7 separate regions of the Homo sapiens genome follow, and all the other regions are reported to be linked to region 5. The links are microRNA targets in miRTarBase. Many come from high-throughput screens and were not tested one by one. Region 5 holds a microRNA gene; each other region holds the end of a gene's coding sequence. Distances are from middle to middle.
The links. The annotated mature microRNA hsa-miR-4733-5p reads AAUCCCAAUGCUAGACCCGGUG and lies in region 5 at 1,328-1,349, opposite strand. An mRNA with a match to its seed (bases 2 to 7 or 8) in the 3' UTR can be bound and repressed. Matches are read on the target gene's strand: a 7mer-m8 pairs with bases 2 to 8, a 7mer-A1 pairs with bases 2 to 7 and ends in A, and an 8mer does both.

Region 1: miRTarBase lists APOOL as a target of hsa-miR-4733-5p. Seed matches in the 3' UTR shown: 7mer-m8 at 2,287-2,293.
Region 2: miRTarBase lists GOSR1 as a target of hsa-miR-4733-5p. Seed matches in the 3' UTR shown: 7mer-m8 at 2,062-2,068.
Region 3: the mRNA of MYO5A is a reported target of hsa-miR-4733-5p. The part of its 3' UTR that is shown has no 7-base or 8-base seed match.
Region 4: the mRNA of ELMOD2 is a reported target of hsa-miR-4733-5p. Seed matches in the 3' UTR shown: 7mer-A1 at 1,669-1,675.
Region 6: miRTarBase lists MORN3 as a target of hsa-miR-4733-5p. Seed matches in the 3' UTR shown: 7mer-A1 at 1,768-1,774.
Region 7: miRTarBase lists PRELID3B as a target of hsa-miR-4733-5p. Seed matches in the 3' UTR shown: 7mer-m8 at 1,669-1,675.

Annotation. Positions count from the first base shown.
Region 1 is chrX:85,087,083-85,090,177 of GRCh38, forward strand. It overlaps APOOL (apolipoprotein O like), which reads left to right. Exons shown (of 9, transcript NM_198450.6): 9 at 508-3,095. The coding sequence ends at 596. Among named protein-coding and RNA genes, the nearest start is that of APOOL, 85 kb to the left of the region's middle.
Region 2 is chr17:30,521,828-30,524,922 of GRCh38, forward strand. GOSR1 (golgi SNAP receptor complex member 1) reads left to right here. Exons shown (of 9, transcript NM_001007025.2): 9 at 427-3,095. The coding sequence ends at 551. Among named protein-coding and RNA genes, the nearest start is that of GOSR1, 46 kb to the left of the region's middle.
Region 3 is chr15:52,311,248-52,314,342 of GRCh38, forward strand. MYO5A (myosin VA) reads right to left here. Exons shown (of 42, transcript NM_001382347.1): 41 at 2,876-2,956; 42 at 1-2,601. The coding sequence ends at 2,449. Among named protein-coding and RNA genes, the nearest start is that of MYO5C, 17 kb to the left of the region's middle.
Region 4 is chr4:140,550,000-140,553,094 of GRCh38, reverse strand. It overlaps ELMOD2 (ELMO domain containing 2), which reads right to left. Exons shown (of 9, transcript NM_153702.4): 9 at 1-2,865. The coding sequence ends at 2,720. Among named protein-coding and RNA genes, the nearest start is that of UCP1, 17 kb to the left of the region's middle.
Region 5 is chr17:31,093,068-31,096,162 of GRCh38, forward strand. MIR4733 (microRNA 4733) reads right to left here and starts at 1,358; the gene lies at 1,283-1,358. It overlaps NF1 (neurofibromin 1), which reads left to right and starts at 1,910. Exons shown (of 58, transcript NM_001042492.3): 1 at 1,910-2,302. The coding sequence starts at 2,243. MIR4733HG (MIR4733 host gene) reads right to left here and starts at 2,423. Exons shown (of 4, transcript NR_186435.1): 1 at 2,160-2,423; 2 at 306-424. It overlaps LOC124903974 (a long non-coding RNA gene), which reads left to right. Exons shown (of 2, transcript XR_007065704.1): 2 at 1-60. RefSeq lists a promoter at 1,490-1,915, cis regulatory regions at 1,523-1,762, 1,989-2,299, an enhancer at 1,903-1,920 and silencers at 2,155-2,224, 2,265-2,314.
Region 6 is chr12:121,650,143-121,653,142 of GRCh38, reverse strand. MORN3 (MORN repeat containing 3) reads left to right here. Exons shown (of 6, transcript NM_173855.5): 4 at 1-68; 5 at 335-415; 6 at 1,499-3,000. The coding sequence ends at 409. Among named protein-coding and RNA genes, the nearest start is that of MORN3, 18 kb to the left of the region's middle. RefSeq lists enhancers at 1,069-1,568, 1,569-2,070.
Region 7 is chr20:59,032,203-59,035,279 of GRCh38, forward strand. PRELID3B (PRELI domain containing 3B) reads right to left here. Exons shown (of 6, transcript NM_016045.3): 6 at 943-2,924. The coding sequence ends at 2,805. ATP5F1E (ATP synthase F1 subunit epsilon) reads right to left here and starts at 133. Exons shown (of 3, transcript NM_006886.4): 1 at 18-133. The coding sequence starts at 49. It overlaps SLMO2-ATP5E (SLMO2-ATP5E readthrough), which reads right to left. Exons shown (of 6, transcript NR_037930.1): 4 at 2,770-2,924. RefSeq lists an enhancer at 1-66 and a silencer at 87-376.

The DNA of each region.
Region 1 (3,095 bases), not on the chromosome of region 5:
CTTTACCATGGCCCTGTGTGACCTAGCTTTCCATTGTCTTTTTGATCACATCTCCTATCATCTCACTGCCTTGCCGCCACCCCTACATACACCACATTTGTCTACTGTGTTTCAACCATATTGGTTCCTCAGACATACCTCAGGTCCATTACACTTGCCGTCTGCTCATCCTGGAAGGCATTGCCTGCTGGTATCTATAGGGTGCACACCCTCACCTCCTTCAGTTCTCGGCTCATGTATCACCTTTCCAGAAGGCTTTCCCTGGCTGCCCTATTTAAAATTACAAATCACCTAAGCACTCCATATATCCTTCCTTGTTTCATTTTTTCACATAGCACTTAACCACCATCTGATATATATTTAATTAGTTTGTCTGTCTCACCTAACTCAAATGTTAGGTCTGTGTCACTAGAGATTTTTATCTGGTTTGTTCGCTGCTGTCTTCCCAGTATCAAAAATAAATTTGTTAAGTGACTAATTTTTCTTTTCATTTTAATACTTTATCAGGTGCAACCCAGTTTATGCCTGACCCCAAGCTCATGGATCACGGGCAGTCCCACCCAGAAGATATAGATATGTACAGCACTAGAAGCTGAAGTAGACTGCATGCAGAGACTACACAGAAAACTACAAGATGTGTGGCGTTGCAAATAATGATGAAAATAAATCATGTAATGGGTAACTGATACATAGAGTATTACCTAAACCAAGTTTCTCCCTTACATTTCCAAATATGCCATTTGATAAATTACATAAGTGGTTAACACACAAACTGTGAATGCAGTGTAAACAATATTAAATGATTGATGAGGAGACTTAGGTAGAAGTATTAGCTTGCATTTGATGACCTTTAAGGGCACTTAAAAAAAAATGAAGACATGAATTCTAGTGAGATTAAAATCTAAAAATACATATATATATATGTATGTATAAATACATACATATTTATACATGTATAAATACGTATTTATACATATATGTATAAATACATATACATATATGTATAAATACATATACATATTTATACATATATGTATAAATACATACATATTTATACATATATGTATAAATACATACATATTTATACATATATGTATAAATACATACATATTTATACATATATATGTATAAATACATACATATTTATACATATAAACATATATTTCTGCTCTAGCTTTCCCAGATTAATGCTAGTTAAATTAGAATGGTGTATGGAAAGGTGTGTTTCCCTCTGTTTTTTTTTTTTTTTTTTTTTTTTTTTTTCCCATTTCCTAGAGCTGGAATAAAATATCCATGTTTTATGGGACTTGAGCTTGGCTTTGTCCCTTGGTTTTGTTAATGTTAATTCCTCTTAAATATCTAAAAACATCTCTACCTATTTGAGAGGGCCATATGCTACACAGGCTTCCTAATACTGCTTAGCAATCCTTCTACTGGTTCCTAAGTGGTTTACTATTGTGTTCCCTGGAAGAGGTATTACAAACGTTTTATTCTTCTCAAGCCTCTTAGAACTGTCAAAGTTGACTGTGCCTCCTATTTCATAGAGAAAAAACTAAATTATTAGATATGACCATTCCCAAAACTTCTTCCCATCTACCTTCAAGACTTACCTCTTTTCAGCCATGCATCCCCCTTTTCTAAGACATGCTTCTCTTTGTGTTCTTGACCTCATTCCTTCCCATCTAAGACCATATTCCACCCTGTTTAATTTCTAGTCTTCGGTTTCTCTTTTTACAGTGAGCAAATTAGAAGAATAGGTTAGAAGAATAGGGTAGTAGATACTGTAGTTTCTTTCCTCCACCTCTACATAGCTGCAGGTCTTCTCTGTCTTAAATCAACAATAACAAAACAAGACAAAAACCTTTCCTTAACTTGGCCTCTTCCCTTGAACTATTTTTTCTCTCTCCTTCCTATAATTGTTATACTTCTTTAAAAAGTAATTGTTACTTTTTGACAAAAGTAAATATTGTCCCTTTTTTCCCTACTTTCAAGTCCTCTCTGTCTTGTGACATTCTGGCCTCCATACCTGCTTAATTTTTTTTGAGATGGGGTCTTGCTCTGTTGCCCAGGCTGGAGTGCAGTGGCACAAACACAGCTCACTGCAACCTCCACCTCCCAGGATCAAGCAATCCTCCCATCTCACCCTCCCAAGTAGCTGGGACTATAGGCACCCGCCACCATGCCTAATTTTTTGTATTTTTGGTAGTGACAGGGTTTCACCATGTTGTCCAGGCTGGTCTCGAACTCCTGAGCTCAAGCATCTGTCCGACTCAGCCTACCACAGTGTTGGGATTACAGGCGTGAGCCACCGCACCCAGCCCCTACTTGAATTTTTATGTCATTATTGACTCTTCACCACTCTCTCCTTGAGACTCACTTATCCCTTTGCTCTCTATTTTTCCTGCTTTTGTTATTCTTCATTTTTCTTCTCTTGCTCTGAATCCCTTAAATGCTGAGGCTGCTCAAGTTTCATCCCTAGTCCTATTTTCTCATTCTATATGCACACTCATTTTTCATTTAACAGACTTCACTGGCTTCAGGCACCATTTGTTTTATTATTCATATTTTCAACCCCCATATCTCTCTAGTGCTGTAGACCTTTATTTCTACTTACTAGTTATATTCACCTAACATCCCATAGATATGCCAATGTCAATGTGCCTAAAACAAAATTGTCTCTACCTCCCGCTCCTTCAAATCTATTCTGTCTTCTCTAATCCTATAATTACTCTCCCTCAAGTCATCATCATCACTTTTCTGGGTTACTGTAATAGCCTTCAGGCTAATTTGCTCACTGTCAATCTTGCTGTCTCTCATTTCAGAATATGTTCTGCTTGCAGGTGACAGTAAACTAGTTAAACAAATATTTAATATTAGCTTAAGCAAAAAAAAAAAAAAAGGCCTATCCTATTTATAGCCTAGAATTAGGCAGTATAGGGTTGGGACAGTGGCTCATTGGTGCTATCAAGGACGTAGACTTTTTCTCTTTCCACTCTGTCCTCTACAGCATGCTGGTTTGTCACCTCATGGTCACAAGATGTCTGCTGTACCTCCAGGGAGCAGATACACATTCAAAGTAGGAAATAGCAGATAAA
Region 2 (3,095 bases), 570 kb from region 5:
GAGAAGGAAAATGAGGAAAGGGAGGGAAATGGGTGGTGGTGGCGATGGGAGCTGGCTATGCCTGTGCCTCCCTGCCAGAGTTCCTCCATTCCTGGCCACGCTGGCTCCCACCCTGACCTGAAGCCTGGCAGTAAGCCCTCAGTGCTTGGGAACTGTCATCGTCCTTTTCTTCTCCCTCTCTCTCTATTACTATTCTTATTTGTGTTACACACAAGACTGGGAGATGTGTATTGGTTAGGGGCCTTGAGCCGCAGCGCGTTCCCGGTTTGGGCAACTGCATCTGCTAAAGATTCCCTTGGTGTGAGTTTCTTCCCCATGCCTTTCATCACTGTTTCTAGACACCACTGATCTCTATTTTTGTGATTCCTACGACTTTTCGCCAGAGAGGCTTCTTCCAAATATGACCTTAATAAAGATTTCCCAAAGATCGTTTTCCTGCTGTAAACAGCCTGATCCAGAGGATCAACCTGAGGAAGCGGCGGGACTCGCTCATCCTAGGGGGTGTTATTGGGATCTGTACCATCCTGTTGCTGCTGTATGCGTTCCATTGATGGGACATCTTCAGGGACTCTTGACAGCCACCGCTTTCACACCCTGGTCTGGAATAAGGAAACATCGGAGGGAGAAGTTGACTGTCTTGATAATTAGCCTGACCAGCAGGATGAATGCAAGACTGACAGTGATGGACTCTGTGACATGGTCAGGTTGAGCTGAAGCCACAGTTTCTCTGTGCTGTGTTTTCTAACACATTTTTCTGTTTTTAATTAAAAAAAAAAAAAAAAGGTTTTCAGTTGCTTTTGTCTCCCTAGGAGGCAGGTAAACCAATCAAAAACAGAGTTTTCTGTGTTTCCATGATAGTGTTGAAGCCTAATGACAAGCCAGGTCTTACAGCTGGGCTCTTCAGAAAACCAGGTTTCTACATCCAAAGACTGCTTTTCTTTTAGCTGCCAGATTGGATTGTGAATAAAAATAATTCTTCCCTCTCCCTCTCCCTCTCCCCACGGTCTCCCTCTTTCCACGGTCTCCCTCTGATGCCGAGCCGAAGCTGGACTGTACTGCTGCCATCTCGGCTCACTGCAACCTCCCTGCCTGATTCTCCTGCCTCAGCCTGCCGAGTGCCTGCAATTGCAGGCGAGCGCCGCCACGCCTGACTGCCTCGGCCTCCCGAGGTGCCGGGATTGCAGACGGAGTCTCGTTCACTCAGTGCTCAATGGTGCCCAGGCTGGAGTGCAGTGGCGTGATCTCGGCTCACTACAACCTCCACCTCCCAGCCACCTGCCTTGGCCTCCCAAAGTGCCGAGATTGCAGCCTCTGCCCGGCCGCCACCCCGTCTGGAAAGTGAGGAGCGCCTCTGCCCGGCCGCCATCCCATCTAGGAAGTGAGGAGCGCCTCTTCCCAGCCGCCATCCCATCTAGGAAGTGAGGAGCGTCTCTGCCCGGCCGCCCATCGTCTGAGATGTGGGGAGCGCCTCTGCCCCGCCGCCCCGTCTGGGATGTGAGGAGCTCCTCTGCCCGGCCGCGACCCCGTCTGGGAGGTGAGGAGCGTCTCTGTCTGGCCACCCCGTCTGAGAAGTGAGGAGACCTCCGCCCGGCAGCCGCCCTGTCTGAGAAGTGAGGAGCCCCTCCGCCCGGCAGCCACCCCATCTGGGAAGTGAGGAGCGTCTACGCCCGGGCAGCTGCCCCGTCCGGGAGGGAGGTGGGGGGGTCAGCCCCCCGCCCGGCCAGCCGCCCCGTCCGGGAGGGAGGTGGGGGGGATCAGCCCCCCGCCCGGCCAGCCGCCCCGTCCGGGAGGGAGGTGGGGGGCGCCTCTGCCCGGCCGCCCCTGCCCGGCCGCCCCTACTGGGAAGTGAGGAGCCCCTCTGCCTGGCCACCACCCCATCTGGGAGGTGTGCCCAGCAGCTCATTGAGAACGGGCCATGATGACAATGGCGGTTTTGTGGAATAGAAAAGGCGGAAAGGTGGGGAAAAGATTGAGAAATTGGATGGTTGCCGTGTCTGTGTAGAAAGAAGTAGACATGGGAGACTTTTCATTTTGTTCTGTACTAAGAAAAATTCTTCTGCCTTGGGATCCTGTTGATCTATGACCTTACCCCCAACCTGGTGCTCTCTGAAACATGTGCTGTGTCCACTCAGGGTTAAATGGATTAAGGGTGGTGCAAGATGTGCTTTGTTAAACAGATGCTTGAAGGCAGCATGCTCCTTAAGAGTCATCACCACTCCCTAATCTCAAGTACCCAGGGACACAAACACTGCGGAAGGCGGCAGGGTCCTCTGCCTAGGAAAACCAGAGACCTTTGTTCACTTGTTGATCTGCTGACCTTCCCTCCACTATTGTCCTATGACCCTGCCAAATCCCCCTCTGCGAGAAACACCCAAGAATGATCAATTAAAAAAAAAATAATATAATAATAATTCTTGTCCTCTTATTTTACACTCATAATGAGAAATCACAAGTTCTTTCTTGATGATCTGTGCTATAGATTTCTACTCTGTCTCCTCAACTCTGTTGATATTTGGGGAAAATTCTGTTTTTCATAGATTCTTTGAGATGCTGATGGACCAGCTTCAGCATGTTTGAGGTTGTCTGAAATGGAGATCACTGTAAAACTGTCTTTTTCTTTTAAATTACAAGTACACTGGGGTTAACTGTATTGCTGGAAAAACATCAAGAATGACAGTCTTATATTTAAGGCACCAGTCATTGTTTCCATTTTTTTTTTAATTCTTCCCTTGGATTAATATTTTCTACTGAAAAGAAATGAAATCTCAGTTCCACTATGATAAAAGAAACGAATCACCAGTGTCTGTCAGTGCCCCCACTGCTCCTCCTCATACCAGCATTGACACTGGTAGCTGAGGAAGGGGACTGCTCAATTTCTAATGTGATCTATTCAAGAAGCCACATATAAAAAGGCATTGAGGGCTCACTGTCCAGAGAATTGCTTTTGTAAATGCTCCACAACGTATGGGCAAAAGTTTAAGGACTACTGCCTGATGTACCAGGAATCCTGAGTTCTGTGAAAATCTGTTCATTCCAAATCTGTTAAGCATTTCCAAACATCCAGAGAATGGTTTCACTGTTGAGGGTGCATGTGG
Region 3 (3,095 bases), not on the chromosome of region 5:
CGTGCTACACAGGATGAAGCTGGGGGAGGTCTGGGAGATTTCCAGGGCTGAGGCGGACAGCCTGTACCACGTTGCATTTTCTTAGCAACTCCCCAACTTACAGCCTATCGGATGCTGTTAGATTCTGACACATTTGGTACGAACCAAATGGCTATGACTTAATTGTGCATTGAAAACCGCATTGACAACCAGGAAAAACTGGGAGAATTTGATGCAATTGGTAGTGTTTCTGGTTGATACTGCAAATAAATAAATAAATGTATTCAAACTGAATAAAGCAATACATGATGTAATAAAAATTACTTAAACTAATTATAATACAAATATAGTAGGACCTTCTAAAAGCATGTACATAAATCATGTACATTTAAGAAAGGTTACAGCTACACAAACTTGTGATTTTACATTTGATTAATCCTAAGGAATTGACAGGCACTACACACTGGTCTTTCCATCAGAGAATGGACTTACTGAGTAACTGCAGCTTTTTCTCTCTAGAATCTAAGGGCTGAGAAGAGAGAATTTTAAATGTGGAGGAGATGTTAAGAATCAGTGTCCAACTCTCTTATTTTATAAACGAGGAACTTGAGGCCCATGTAAATTAACAGACAGTATTTATCTTTTAATAACAATCTTTATCACTGATATGAAGCTGTTTGACTTCCATAAATATTGCACATATTTTAATAAGATTTATAGACCATCTAACAGTTAAATTTATATAACCTATGATTGTAATTCAGAACCAGAGTTTCTAATGAAAACTAATAATTTGCTTTTGTGCAACCTGAAGGATTTATTGTATAAGATTCCTAAGAAAAATGGTGAATATGTTTAACTAGAATTTCAGAATGAAAACTTACAGAATCTGGGTCTTAATGAACCAAATCCTCTGTAAAATTCAACAATCTTCTATTTCTTATATAAGTCTTCTTAAAGTATTTCTAATATGATGCTTTTAAAATTATCTAGTGGCATCTGAGAACACTTATAGAAGCTGCAAAGCCTTAAAAACTGAATCATAATGAAATATTTATTATATACCTTCTTTTGCATAATCAAAGTTTCAAGACCTGAATCGTGAATATTCTGACAATCCTCTCTAGATAGTGAGTGAGATTCTTTTTTTTTCCAAGGCAGTGTCTCTCTCTGTCACCCAGGCTGGAGTGCAGTGGTTCGATCTCATTGCAATCTCCGCCTCCCAGGTTTAATCGATTCTCGTGCCTCAGCCTCCCGAGTAGCTGGGATTACAGGCAAGTGCCACCACGCCCGGCTAATTTTTGTATTTTTAGTAGAGACAGGGTTTCGCCATGTTGGCCAGGCTGGTCTCCAACTCCTAACCTGAAGTGATCCGCCCACCTTGGCTTCCCAAAGTGCTGGGATTACAGGCGTGAGCCACCGCGCCCAGCCGAGATTAATTCTTAATAAATTAAGAAGAGAGAAAACCTGTCAAGGTTGAAAATATGCACTGAAGGAATCAGATCTGGTAGTTAAAAATAAGTCACTTCACAGAACACTGTACCCTGACGCAATATCCACCCAGGGAAAATTAATGAGCACATCAATGTAATACATCCTGAATAAATAATGACATCAACAATAGCCACTTTGTCTAATCCTACCCCTAAATGTCAAGCATTTTGTCATATTACTACATGACTTTCCAGTGTCTGCTACTTGTGCAGGTGAATCTGTAGGTATTTGCATATAATCCAGTTAAAACTGTGATCTGATTGAATTGTAAACAGAATTGACAAGAGAAACTTATTGTAGTGCCTAATATCACTTACATTTTAAGAAGACAGTATGTAGCAGCAATTTAAAATGCTCAGTAAACTATAGTACAAATGGACATCTATACTATTTAGCAAACCAACATTCCTTTAATATCTCTATATCATAGTGACACAAATGAGGAATTACTTTACATATTGCCAGTTTATTTCTTTGAACCAGTTTAACAATATCAACATAATTGATTACTAAACTGACATGATATGTACTCAATGGAGACTTTTCTTTCCATTCTCCTGTTTAGTGCAGAGGAGGTTCTTTGGTGCCTTCCTAACAACAGCTCATCTATGGAAGTTATACTTTTTATACCATTCAAACTCAGTGCTAAGGATTTAAAATAAATGCTGCCAGCTGAAGACACATTTTTCTCCTCCTTTCCTTCCTCCCTTCCTTCCATCATTCTCCTGTATGTAAACTCACGGTACCTAGTTGGTTAAGGATGAGTGTTGCTATAAAGATAACACAGCACGAAAGAGCCTATCTTTGTTTCCAAAGTGATGAAAGTATTCTAGGGAGATTTCCAGTTAATGACTTCTCATTTGGGAGATAATCAGTACTTTCTCTTTAAAAATGTATTTTCAGTAACTCACTGGAAATAATGGGTTCTTATTTCGGGCAAGAAATGTATTGTCAATTTTTGCCTGGACATCACTTTCAGACCCGTGAAATGAAGCCCAGGCCGAGGCTGGCTGGAATCTGGATGGTTTCTAGTGCGAGGGAAGATGGGTTGAAAGGAAAGGTGACAGGAAAGATGTGTTTAGCATCCATGAGCAGCTGGGGAGAGTCTTTCCTGTCTCGTAAACGCATCTGAGAAGATTAGGAAAAAAAATAAACAGAGCATCAGTTCTTTGAATCTAAAAGACTTTTTTCTACTAAAATTTCTACCCTCAAATTCTCAACTAATGAAGAATGTTTACTTTTGTTTTAAACTCACTTCATTTTCCCAATTAACTATTATCAAAAAAGTTAGTGCATTGTAAAATAAGATAATAAAAGATAACACATTATCCTTCAATAAATTACAAAATGTCCATTCAAAAGACTGTGTTGGTGAATCAAAGAAGAAGATGGGAGCTCTTACCTGTATAGTACGAATGAACGACACAGAGACTCTTTCTTCAAACTCATTAACTGGAGTATACAAATTCAACACTTTCACAATCTGTGAGAAATGAAATGATCAAAGTTTTTGGCATATTATCAAATACACACTGGGTACCTATAATCTGGAAAATTAAAAGGATCTGTGCGTACAGATTTCAGTTCTACTCAGGGGTGGGCTGGGACCAGAAGGAAGGAGG
Region 4 (3,095 bases), not on the chromosome of region 5:
AGAGTACATATATTTTCACGTAGAAAAAATACATACAAATCCAAGTAGCTCCTAAAAATAGAAATCAGATGGGCATTTTTAAGAAAAAGATTGTTTTCTAAACTGTAAATGGTGCCAGTAAGACACTGATTTTTATATCTAGCTACATCACCATATTTATGTACAAAGAGAGGTTGGTATAGGTTCACTGATACCCCCAATTTCTCCCATTTCTTTAAAGATTGTCTTTCAGATCCTATTAAAACCATAACTGTTAATTTTTTAGACTACTTCCTGTCACTGGCACACTCTCTTCAACCTGGCACATACAAAAATTCATTTCAACATCTATTTACTTTTTTGATGCTAAAACTAACAATTTTTCGGCTACTTCAATGCCACAATATTCTATCACTACTTTGGCATTTTACTAATTATTATAGAAACAGGTAAGATTCTAAATATGGATTTTAAGACTATGTAAAATTCCAACTACATATGTCAAAAGGGAAAGTAGGAAGGTAGACACAATTATATTTTTGTTTTCATGTATATCATTGTCATGAGTCTGAAGCCTCATGTTGCATTCTAATTTACAACTGACATTGGTGACAGTTTGCTTGGCTTCTAGACTCAAACCCTAGAATTTATTAGTGGCTTTTAGATCAATTTGCTGTAAAACTATCTGAAATGGTTGCAGATTATTTTAAGCAAAAACAGAATGATACCTATAATGTACAAATGGAGGTGGATTTAAAGAACATATTATTGAGCAAGCTCTATAATGACATTTTCTTAACATCATCATAGTTTTTCTTCCTAGAAGGGAAAAAACTTACTTAAAATTTTCCCCTTCTTTACTTAAAGCATTCTTAAGTATATTGACAAATGTTTAAATCAGTTCAAGCTCTCAGCTGTTGGAAGATCAAAACACAAAGATAAGCATTTTCAACACAAACATCAAAAGATGAACAGAATTGCTTTCCATGTAATAGTTAATACCTTAATACAATGAACTTGTCAGGATTTTGCGACATATTGTATAGCTGGACAATAAAGCATGAAAATATTTTTTAAAAATTAAGTGAAGATATTCCCAAAGTTGAGATGTCCCCTACAAGAAACCAATTTTTAAATTCCTGTAATACTGAAAAGCTAAATTGCCACTATTGTAATAAAGTGAACCAAATTTTTAAAATAATTTTATCTTATTGAGAAACTAATTTTAACGCAAGCACTTTAAATGTATGTGCTATACAACACTGCATCTTATTTTCCAATTGGATATGTCTTACCACTCTTCTAACAAGTTTGAAAGAAAGAGGTCTGTCAACAGACACGAGCAAATACTTATAAAGTCTCAGGTCTTGCTCTATCACATACTAGCCAGTCCTTAAACACTTGATATATACCCACATTAAAAGGTGTGCTAAATATCGTCATGTTTTAGATGAAATTATGTCCTTAAAAGGTTGGTTTCTGTAGGATTTAAGGAGAACTTAAACTTTGCTGCTTTAAACTTTAGTTTTGCTATCAGTACAAATGTGTAAAACGCACCAAGAAGAAATCATTCCCATAAAAATCTCATCACTATATAATCGTTGACAGCACTTGCTGCCCTCCTGAGATTTTAGGAGAATAAAACTATATAAAATGCACAGTCATCAAGTCATCTTCAAGCTATTTTAGTATCCCACAAACCATTAACATAAAGTTCATACATGGTTATCTAAAAACACCATGGAGTCAAAGAGAAGCAAGAGTTAACAGTAAGTCAAATAAACCAATGATGTTTAACTGAGATTTTTTTAAAACTTAAGCTTTCTTAAGTTTCAAAGACAGTTTTACTTAAACAGAAACTGTCTTTTATAATCTTTTTGTCTTTTATATAATCAAGATTTTCTTGGCAAATACATCTCTTTTCGTAAACATACATAGGTAGAGAAGTTTCATATGTAGGTAGAGCGGTTTCATAAGCATACATAGGTAGAGAAGAAAACACTAAGGTTCTTTTCTACAACTGATAAAAAGCAAATACTGAAGATGAGAAAATGCCTTTAAGCTTTCAAATAACACTGTGGCATTTTAAAGTGTGTTATTTAAAAACAAAAAAGCTAGTCACCAATACTGTCATTCTCTCATCAGTTATGCTCAATAATCACAGAAACCCAAAAGGAGGCCCTAATTCTTTATTCTCTCTGCTGTATCTCTGCTCTATTTGCTACTAATGAAGCAACGTTATGACATGTAATTAAGATGCAAACAAAGAAAACCATAAAGAAACACTTGCTGTTAATTAACCTAGAAATAAAAATCAGACAAAATTAAAAACAGCCATTTCCAAACTAAAAACCAAAAAAATCTTAAAGAGCTTTGAAAAAGATACCAACTTGACCCTATAACACATAAAAACGAAAATTGATTTTACACATTTTAATCAATTTAATACAAATACCTGATTTATACTTTTACACCAACGGGCTAAGTCCCAAGTTCCAAACTGTAGTTCGCATGACTCTACAGAGGGGATCTTTGGAAGGATAAGGTACCTTTGGAGAACAGTGTATAAACAATTGTAAACATACACTGATTGTCCACTAGCTTTCTTAAATAGAATTTCTGAAATATTTTTGTAGGAAATTATATATAAGAGTGTAATTGATCAGATAATTCCTATTACAACATATAAATTCTGTTGAATGTGCAAAATGTGGTAGAAATAGAAGATACAGTGGATGATTTATACTTTTAAAGTAAGTGCTACATTACAATCCAGTAAAAGTCCTTTAATCTTTTCATGAAACTTCTCTCTATACAAATTGAAATACATAATGCTTTCTGGTTCTTCTTCAAACCAAAACTTGTCAAATTCATAGACAAGATAACCTGCAGTTAAAGAAAAACAAAACATTTAATCCTCAATGTTGAAATCACATTCAAACCGTCTCATCTTTACAAAGTATATAACCATCCTTTAAATTCCATATTAGAATACAATAATCAAAAGTAATCTCAAAACTATTAGAAGCCTGAGGGACTTAATAAGACTTAATAAACGATTTAGTGTATATTTACTATTTGTCTCAAAAATCAACAACGTCCCTCAAGTTTAAAAG
Region 5 (3,095 bases):
GGCTACTGGCTTTGTGGCTTTTCTGTAGGAAAATTAAAATTCTAGTTTTGTTCTCCCTTATCACCCAGTGTCTGTGTGGCTTAACTGGCTGATTAGCGCGTGCTTGGAATGTGTAAATTCATTTTAACATTGGCCTAGGGGCCTGTGTGGTAGCTCACCCCTGTCATCCCAGCACTTTGGGAGGCCAAGGCAGGGGGATCACTTGAGGCCAGGAGTTCCAGACCAGCCTGGGCAACATAGCAAGACTGTGTCTCTACCAAAAAAAAAAAAAAAAAAAAAATTAGCCAAAGCAGGGTGACACTCACCTGTAGTCCCAGCTATTCAGGAGCTTGAGGTGGGAGGATCACTTCGGCCCAGGAGTCTGAGGCTGGAGTGAGCTATGATTGAGCCACTGCACTCCACTGCACAGAGTCAGACCTTGTCTCTGAAAAACAAAAACATTTGCCTAGGTAAAATGTATCGAGGAAGACAAATTTTAAAATTACTCATTCCAGGCCAGGTGCGGTGGCTCACACCTGTAATCCCAGTACTTTGGGAGGCTGAGGTGGGCGGATCATGAGGTCAGGAGTTCAAGACCAGCCTGGCCAATATGGTGAAACACCGTCTCTACTAAAAATACAAAAATTAGCCGGCTGTGGTGGCGCATGCCTGTAGTCCCAGCTACTCGGGAGGCTGAGGCAGAAGAATCACTTCAACCGGGAGGCGGAGGTTGCAGTGAGCCGAGATCGCGCCTCTGCACTCCAGCCTGGGTGACAGGGTGAGACTCTGTCTTAAAAAAAAAAAAAAAAAATTAGTCATTCCAAAGTCCAATGTCAGACATAGATTATCCGTTGTTTTGGATGTAATCCTCTTCCTGGAAAACTGGCACAACCCAATTACACATGAAATCCTTTCAACTCTGGTATTGGAGGTATAGGGAAGGACTTTGTTTTAGGAGACCCATAGTCTACCTCTATTGTTCTAGGAGTTAAACCACGTTGGTTTACATCCTGACTTTGCCACCTGTCAACTCAGACCTTGGGCAAATCAAAGGTCTGAGGGAGGAGTGCAGGCTCCCAGCGTTCCCACGGGGGTGGGGACGTGACGTATTCATCAGTTCATGAAGTTAATGATATGTATTGAAAAGGTTTGTTCAAGGATTTAAATAAGACGATGAATATATTGAATTAATAATGAATGCAAGGCCTTAAAGGTGTTTTGAGGGTGGTGAAACTTGAATCTCTCATCAACTGTGCAATAGTTATATTAACTTGGATGGCTATGAGTTTTGCAGAGGAAAGCTGGGCTTAAATCCCAATGCTAGACCTGGTGGCTAGACCTTGATTGCCACCGGGTCTAGCATTGGGATTTAAGCGACCTCTAAAAAAAAAAAATCACGGAATCTCTCTTTGGCCTTCCTTTTTTGTTTCTCAGCAGTCTACCAAGCTACGAAGAACCTGAAAATCGGAGGTCGTGTACCTTATTTTTTCTGAGAGCTTAAGCTGAGAGCACAGCCTCCCCAGGAGATTAGCGGCAGAGATCCGCGCGCTGGGAGAAAGGCTAGCCCCAGGGCGCCCTAACTTCCAACTCCGGGAGCAATCCAAACCCGGAGGCCGGCGGGGGAGGGGACAGCTGTAGGGGGCGGTGGGGATGGGAGTGGATGCTCCCGGGTCAGCTCTGGCACTCGCCAGCTGAGCCCAGCGCCAGTCTAGGTGAGCCCCACGGCGGTGAGGGACGCTCGCCAGACGGCCCAGAGGAGTTAGATGACGTCACCTCCAGGAGGACTCGCTTTTTCATTAATGAAACCGGCCGGCGCGGGCGCATGCGCGGCAGGCCGCCTTCCCTCTCGCTTCCCCCTCCCCTTTCCCAGCCGCGCTCTCAATCTCTAGCTCGCTCGCGCTCCCTCTCCCCGGGCCGTGGAAAGGATCCCACTTCCGGTGGGGTGTCATGGCGGCGTCTCGGACTGTGATGGCTGTGGGGAGACGGCGCTAGTGGGGAGAGCGACCAAGAGGCCCCCTCCCCTCCCCGGGTCCCCTTCCCCTATCCCCCTCCCCCCAGCCTCCTTGCCAACGCCCCCTTTCCCTCTCCCCCTCCCGCTCGGCGCTGACCCCCCATCCCCACCCCCGTGGGAACACTGGGAGCCTGCACTCCACAGACCCTCTCCTTGCCTCTTCCCTCACCTCAGCCTCCGCTCCCCGCCCTCTTCCCGGCCCAGGGCGCCGGCCCACCCTTCCCTCCGCCGCCCCCCGGCCGCGGGGAGGACATGGCCGCGCACAGGCCGGTGGAATGGGTCCAGGCCGTGGTCAGCCGCTTCGACGAGCAGGTAACCGGCCCGTGGCGGGCGGGAGGTGGGAGCGGAGTGGGGGTGGGGACAGAGTAGGTGAGGGGAGGTAGGAGCGGCCGCCTCCCCCGCGGCTGCCTCAGGCTCTGGAGGAAAGGAAGGGAAGGGAAGAGAAGGGAAGGGGGGATAAGTGGGGGTGGCCAAGGCGGGAGGTGAGGGGTAGGAGGGGACAGCTGGGAGCTTGGGCACCCTTTCCCTCCTAAGTCGGGGGGTGGGGCCTTGTCCCTGACCAGCCTCCGACCCTCCATCCCCTTTATCCCAGCCCTTCCGCTTGGAAATGGGGATGAGTGACCTGGGGGCGCCTTTAGGGGCGCGCCATCTGGATTTAATAATTACCCCCTTACTTTTGTTTTTGAGCAGAGGTGGGTAACGTTTAGGGGTTCTCTCTTCCTCTTCCCTCCGTGACCCTCCTAACTGGGGACGAGCGAACCCTAAGGCCTGTCTTATATACCCTCAATAGGAGAACGATAACATTCCGCCCCTCCCCCAGTTTCTTCAGCTTCCTCTCCTGGAGGGGGAAGAGCAGAAGAAAGCAAGGAAGGCACAGGTTTTCTTACTTTCTGCTCCATCGTCTCATCCTGCCCCGAGAGCTTCAAGTGCACACTCACTGCACATCTTTGTGATGCCCTACAACGTCGTCCCCCATATCCTGATGACACAGACTGCCTTTTTTTTTTATTGCCGTTTGCAGTGGAAACCGTGGTTCTGAAATATCTTCCCCTTCCTTGATAATTGCAGTCTCTTCCCCCCCCCCTTTTTTTTTTGCCAGCGGTCT
Region 6 (3,000 bases), not on the chromosome of region 5:
AATGCGGGACGATGATCGACTTTGGCCGTGACGAGGCCCCTGAGCCCACTCAGTTCCCCATTCCTGAGGTGGGCAGCCCTCACCAGGGCCCTGTGGCCACACCCAGACAGAGACAGAAGCCAGCATCCCCAGCCATGCCCAGGCCAGATCTGCCAGGCCCAGCCAAGCCCAGACAGGGAACAGACAAGGTTTTGTTTTCAGTCAGGGCATCCCTAGCAAGGGAGGTGGCTCCTGATGAGGCTGGCAGCACCCCACACGGCAGGCAGCGCCAGTCAAGGCTGGCAGCCTGGGTCCTCCATGCTCTCCAAACCAACTTCTTGGTATTTCCCTCCAGGTCAAAATCCTAGACCCTGATGGTGTGCTGGCGGAGGCCTTGGCCATGTTCAGGAAGACAGAGGAAGGAGATTGATGCCAGGTGAGGGGTGGGCACACCTGCCAAGTTCTGATGTGGCTGAGGCTGCTCCAGGGCCCAGAACAATGCACAGATCTCCTGGGGTCTCCAAAGGGCTTGGGGTCGGGGAGTGGGGGAGCAAGACCATCGAGGGCAGGCTTCTTGCCTCCTACAGTCCCAGGTGTCCTTTTTGACGCTTCCTCTTCAAAACCCCTTTTGACCGGCTGTGGTGGCTCTTGCCTTTAATCCCAGCACTTTGGGAGGCCAAGGCAGGCGGATAAGTTGAGGTCAGGAATTTGAGACCAGCCTGGCCAACATGGTGAAACCCCATCTCTACTAAAAATATAAAAGTTAGCCAGGTGTGGTGGCAGGCACCTGTAGTCCCAGCTACTCGAGAGGCTGAGGCAGGGGAATCACTTGAACCCGGGAGGTGAAGGTTGCAGTGAGCTGAGATTGCACCACTGCACTCCAGCCTGGGCGACAGAATGGGACTCTGTCTCAAAAAAAACAAAACTCGCCAGGCACAGTAATCCTATAATCCTGTAATCCCAGCACTTTGGGAGGCCGAGGTGGGTGGATCACGAGGTCAGGAGTTCAAGACTAGCTTGGCCAAGATGGTGAAACCCCATCTGTACTAAAAACACAAAAATTAGCTGGGCGTGGGGGAGGGCACCTGTAATTCCAGCTACTCAGGAGGCTGAGGCAGAGAATTGCTTGAACCTGGGAGGCAGAGGTTGCAGTGAGCTGAGACTGTGCCACTGCACTCCAGTCTGGGTGAGACTGTGTCTCAAAAAACAAACAAACAAACAAATAAACAAACAAACAAACCATTTCACTGAAGACCAGTGCATTCCAGTCCTGCCTGAAACCTTCTATTTGCACCCTGGGCCACACAACTGAGCTGGGCACGGGGTTGAAAGGAGGTGGTCTCCTGGCTTCTGAACACCCTTGAGTAAGGCAGTTGGCCTTCAGCCTCCATTTACACATCTGTCCAGTGGGGTCTTGTCCAGTCCAAGTCCTCCTGGGCATGATGTGAGGGTTTGAGGAGAGGACATTGGTAACAGCGTCTTTCAAATGCCAGCTCCACCATCCCTCTCTCCCCTGCAGAGAACACAAACGCTTCAGGAGAAATTCAAGCCTGTGTCACCCGATCGCTCAGACCAGTGCGGCTCTGGCTGGAGGAGTCAGCAGCAGCTCCAGGCATGACCCCGGCACCCTCATAGGGCCCCTCACTACCCCCAGCACTGGGTCATTTCTTGCCAATAGGAAGGCTGGTGCTTCTCTCCCAGGCTGTCCTCGGGACCCTCTTCATTCTCTGATCTCATCCTGGAATGCATGAGAATAAAGAATAACCAAGTGGTATAAGCCTGGGCCTATGGGATAAGGATGGGGCACTCGAGGGGGCTCAGCAGGGCTTTCAGGTTTAGAAGAGGGAAGACCTGCCTTGGCTGGGCTGCCTGGGTTTAGCTTGGGGGAGTAAGGGCAGGTCTTAGGCCGGGTGCAGTGGCTCATTCCTGTAATCCCAGAACTTGGGAGGCCAAGGTAAGAGGACTGCCTGAGGCCAGGAGTTCGAGACCAGCTTAGGCAACATAGCAAGACCCTGACTCTACAAAAAAAAATTTTAAAATATAAAAGAAAGGAAAAGAAAAAGAGAAAGAAATGGCAGGTCCCCTGTGAGATAACCCAGATGACCCAGAGAGAAGGCCTGTATCCTGCCACACTGGCTGCCAAGATTGGAGATCATAAAATTTCCTGACCACTTCTCAGCCTAACACAGGGCTCTCAACCTTGAAATCCCATGGAAACTTTGCAAAGCTGTGGAAGCCCAGGTCCCATGCCCAGAGATTCACAGGTTCACATCTAATTCATCTGGGGTGAGGCCTGAGCTTTCAGAAAATTCCCCAGGTGATTTTTTTTTTTTAAGACGTAGTCTCCCTCTATTGCCCAGGCTGGAATGCAGTGGCGCGATCTCAGCTCACTGCAACCTCTGCCTCCCATGTTCAAGCGATTCTCCTACCTCAGCCTCCTGAGTAGCTGGGATTACAGGCGCATGCCACTGAGCCCAGCTAATTTTTGTATTTTTAGTAGAGATGGGGTATCACCATGTTGGTCAGGCTGGTCTTGAACTCCTGACCTCGTGATCTGCCCCGCTCAGTCTCCTAAAGTGCTGGGATTACAGGTGTGAGCCATCGAGCCTGGCCTTTTTTTTTTTTTTTTTTTTTTTTTTGAGACAGAGTCTTGCTCTGTCACCCAGGCTGGAGTGCAGTGGCACAATCTCGGCTCACTGCAACCTCGCCTCCCTGGTTCAAGCGATTATCCTGCCTCAGCCTCCCAAGTAGCTGGGATTACAGGCACCTGCCACCAAGGCTAATTTTTTGTATTTTTAGTAGAGACAGGGTTTCACCATGTTGGCCAGGACGGTCTCGATCTCCTGACCTCGTGATCTGCCCGCCTTGGACTCCCAAAGTGCTGGGATTACAGGTGTGAGCCACTGCTCCCAGCCAAGATCAGATGTTCTTGCATAATGGGCAGGTGAGCTCTGGAGTCACAGTGCCTGGGCGTGAATCTCGGAGCTGTGTGTTCTCAGGAATGTCACCCAAACTCTGTTC
Region 7 (3,077 bases), not on the chromosome of region 5:
TGGAGGCCTGGGCCTACCTGAGTCCAGCCTGTCTCCAGTAGGCCACCATGCTGTAGCGAAAGCGGAGCTCGTCGGGCCGAATCGCCAAGACGCCGGCAATGTCGGCTCAGCCGGGCGGTTCAGCCGCAGGAAGATCAGACCACAGAAGCGGAAGAGGCGGGGCGTGCGGACCTGCCAATCACCGCCTCCTACCCGGCCCCGCCCCTGAGCACGGCCCCTGCTGCCCTGCCGCGGAAGCCCCCCGGCGCCGGGAGCCAATGGGCGCGCGCGGTCTGGACTGCGGGTGCCAATCCCGGGGCGGGCCGGCCGGCCGCGCCCACCTATTGGCTCCAAGAGCTCCCGGGGCGTGTGTCCCCCGACCTTCCGTATTACCCCGGCGGGGACGACGGGGGCAAGAAGGCCGGGGTGTCCCCGCTCGCTAAGGACCACTGAGCCGCGTGCTTTCGGGAAGCGAGGACGCGAGGCGGCGCGGGCACGGCCGCCCCGAGGGCCTGGCTTTGCGCCCGCTTCAGGGAAACGGCGCCGGCTTTTTTAAATCTGTGGACAGACAAGCGTGTCCTGAGAGCTGAGATTTAGAAAGGCTCTTAGGGCACCCCCTTTCTCGGAGTGACACTAAACCCTGGAAACCCAGTGGAGGACCCCCTAGCGTTTTCTGTAGTTCTAGGACCTGCTTCCGATGTGCGACAAGACGGAGGGTAAGGCAACAGTTGTCACTGTTGCCCGGAATGGATGGGAAGAAAAATGTGAGGAAAACCCACTGGAGGCACAGGGAACTGCCAGGCGGCCGGGAAAATGCTCATCTCAGAGCCTGTGATTTAGAGAAACTAACCCAACGCAGTGAAGGCTCACAGTCTAGGAATTAAAGTGTTTCTCTCATAAAGAAAAAAAAGCCTTTGCCCTTCACCTTTAATTACTAAAAAGAAATTATAATCAGGAAAAACATCACTTAAAAGAAAGTTTTTATTAACAAAAGTTTTCCTTAATTCACATTTCAACTTTATTAAATAGTCCAAGGGTTTCATTTATGAACACTTATTCCAGTTTAGTTCTCTTAAATTCATTTGCTTGTTGTGCATTTATGTTTAAAAAGGTAACTAACTGCACTGGAAAATGAAAATTTATAGTTTTATCAATAGGTCAGTTTTTAAAAAATCAAAGGATAAGGATTTAAAAATATTAGGGCATTACACCTTTTTCAGAACAAGGATAATTTACAGAAATTATACAAAGCAGATTTTCATCAAATATCAATTATTTAGCGATGTTTTATTTAGCTGAAATGTTATTTCACTTGTAAAAACTATCTCCGGTTACAAAAAAAAATCAGAAACCTTATTAAATTTAACCTGCTTTTACAAATGTCCTAAGAAGTCTTAAGCTAAACAAAATTTAAGTAGGAAAACGATAATTTAAAAATAGTGTGTTATACTATTTCTGTGGTTTATGTACATATATTAACTGGTCTCTTGGATAGGAAACATGACTAGAAGTTTATCACACTAAGCACTGTAAAATAAAGGCAAGAGCTAATCATCTTCTAGCAAAAATAGTCTCTATGCAACAATTGCAAATGTCAAAGCTATTATTTAGTAGTTAATTGCCTGCTACAATACATAAAACAAAGTACATTTACTGGATTGTTTTTCAGTTTGCAGCTGCCCTCTTGACATCCCAAATAAGGAATTCCCGTTAAGTAAAACCTGCAGTGCAATTCACTCAGTGGTTAGTTTCAGGCCAAGCCTCCCCCTACCATTATGCTTGTTCTTCCCCACCGCCCCCAAATCCTGCAGTGGCACCATATTATTAAAAACACTAAGTACCTGGGATTTATGCCTCAGAGCAAGACATCATTTGAGTAATTTCAAATGATACACAGCTCCTTCATGTAAAAAAGATGTTTTGTGGTCACAATTACTTCAAAAAGTAATTATATTCAAATAACCTGACATATCATGCCTTAGCAATTACAAAACCATGATTTTGACACATGGCAATTTTTAAGTTAGGCAAATGTAAAATGCTAAAAGATGTGAACAGCTGTTCTTCTGTTTAAGTTAGAGCACTGCAAAACTCAGGTAATGACTTTATTTTTTTCAGTTAACATAACCAGCCCACGATACAGCATACTAAATCACAAAGTACAAATCCAAGGAAGTTAATACCTTTACTAAGTTACAAAACTTGGGCAAATCAATACAGTACTCTTTTATAATGAAACCATACTTTTGTTGGAGTCATGTTACTTTAGTGATAATTTTCACTCCAAAAATATTTAAGTACCAAATCAAAACACTGGTTTTTAATGGTGGTTTATAGCATAGTAAGGTATTTTACACAAAATATATTTTAAAACTACACAATTTCTCCTTTTAAGTGAGCTCCCTTGTGCAAGCTGCTGAAGTGTACAGCAGCAGGGCAATGGGCGTCTATAGGAGGTGGCTCTGCTCTGTTCTGGGGTTGGTCCAAAGTCAGGTGGAGTTCCAATGTATGAAAAGCTTGAAAAATCTACCTTAAGGAGACTGAATATCAATACCAGTTTCCAAGGAGTTCTTGTTGAATTTTCACAGAAATACTGGAACCCTCAAAATCAGATAGTAATTTCAAACAACATTAATTTCAGATGATCCCTTTTATTTAGAGGCCCTGCATCTGTTTTGATCAAGTCACATAGCCTTACACCAACTTATCAAAAAAAAAAAAAAAAAAACTACCCAAAATATAGTTGTATTTTTAAAATAACAAATAAATATATAGTCAGTTTGGAGAGACCTGGAGTACCCGATGTTGTCTACCAACTGTCACGATCACTTCTCTGCAAACGCTGCTGCTGCCATTGGAGTCCTTATGGTTCCTCTTGCTGAGGCTGTCAGTTCTTCAATCTCAGCATTTAATTTATGTATTACCCATTCCATTGCTTCTCGGCCCTTAAAAAAAATCCAATACATTTATTGTTACTGAGGGAGAGCAAAGGCATATATCGAACTAATGACACACCAGGAAGTAACAAGGGGCGTGACAAGTTTAACTCAATCTCAGGATGACAGATCGTTTTTGTCCTGGCTTTTTCTAATGTTATT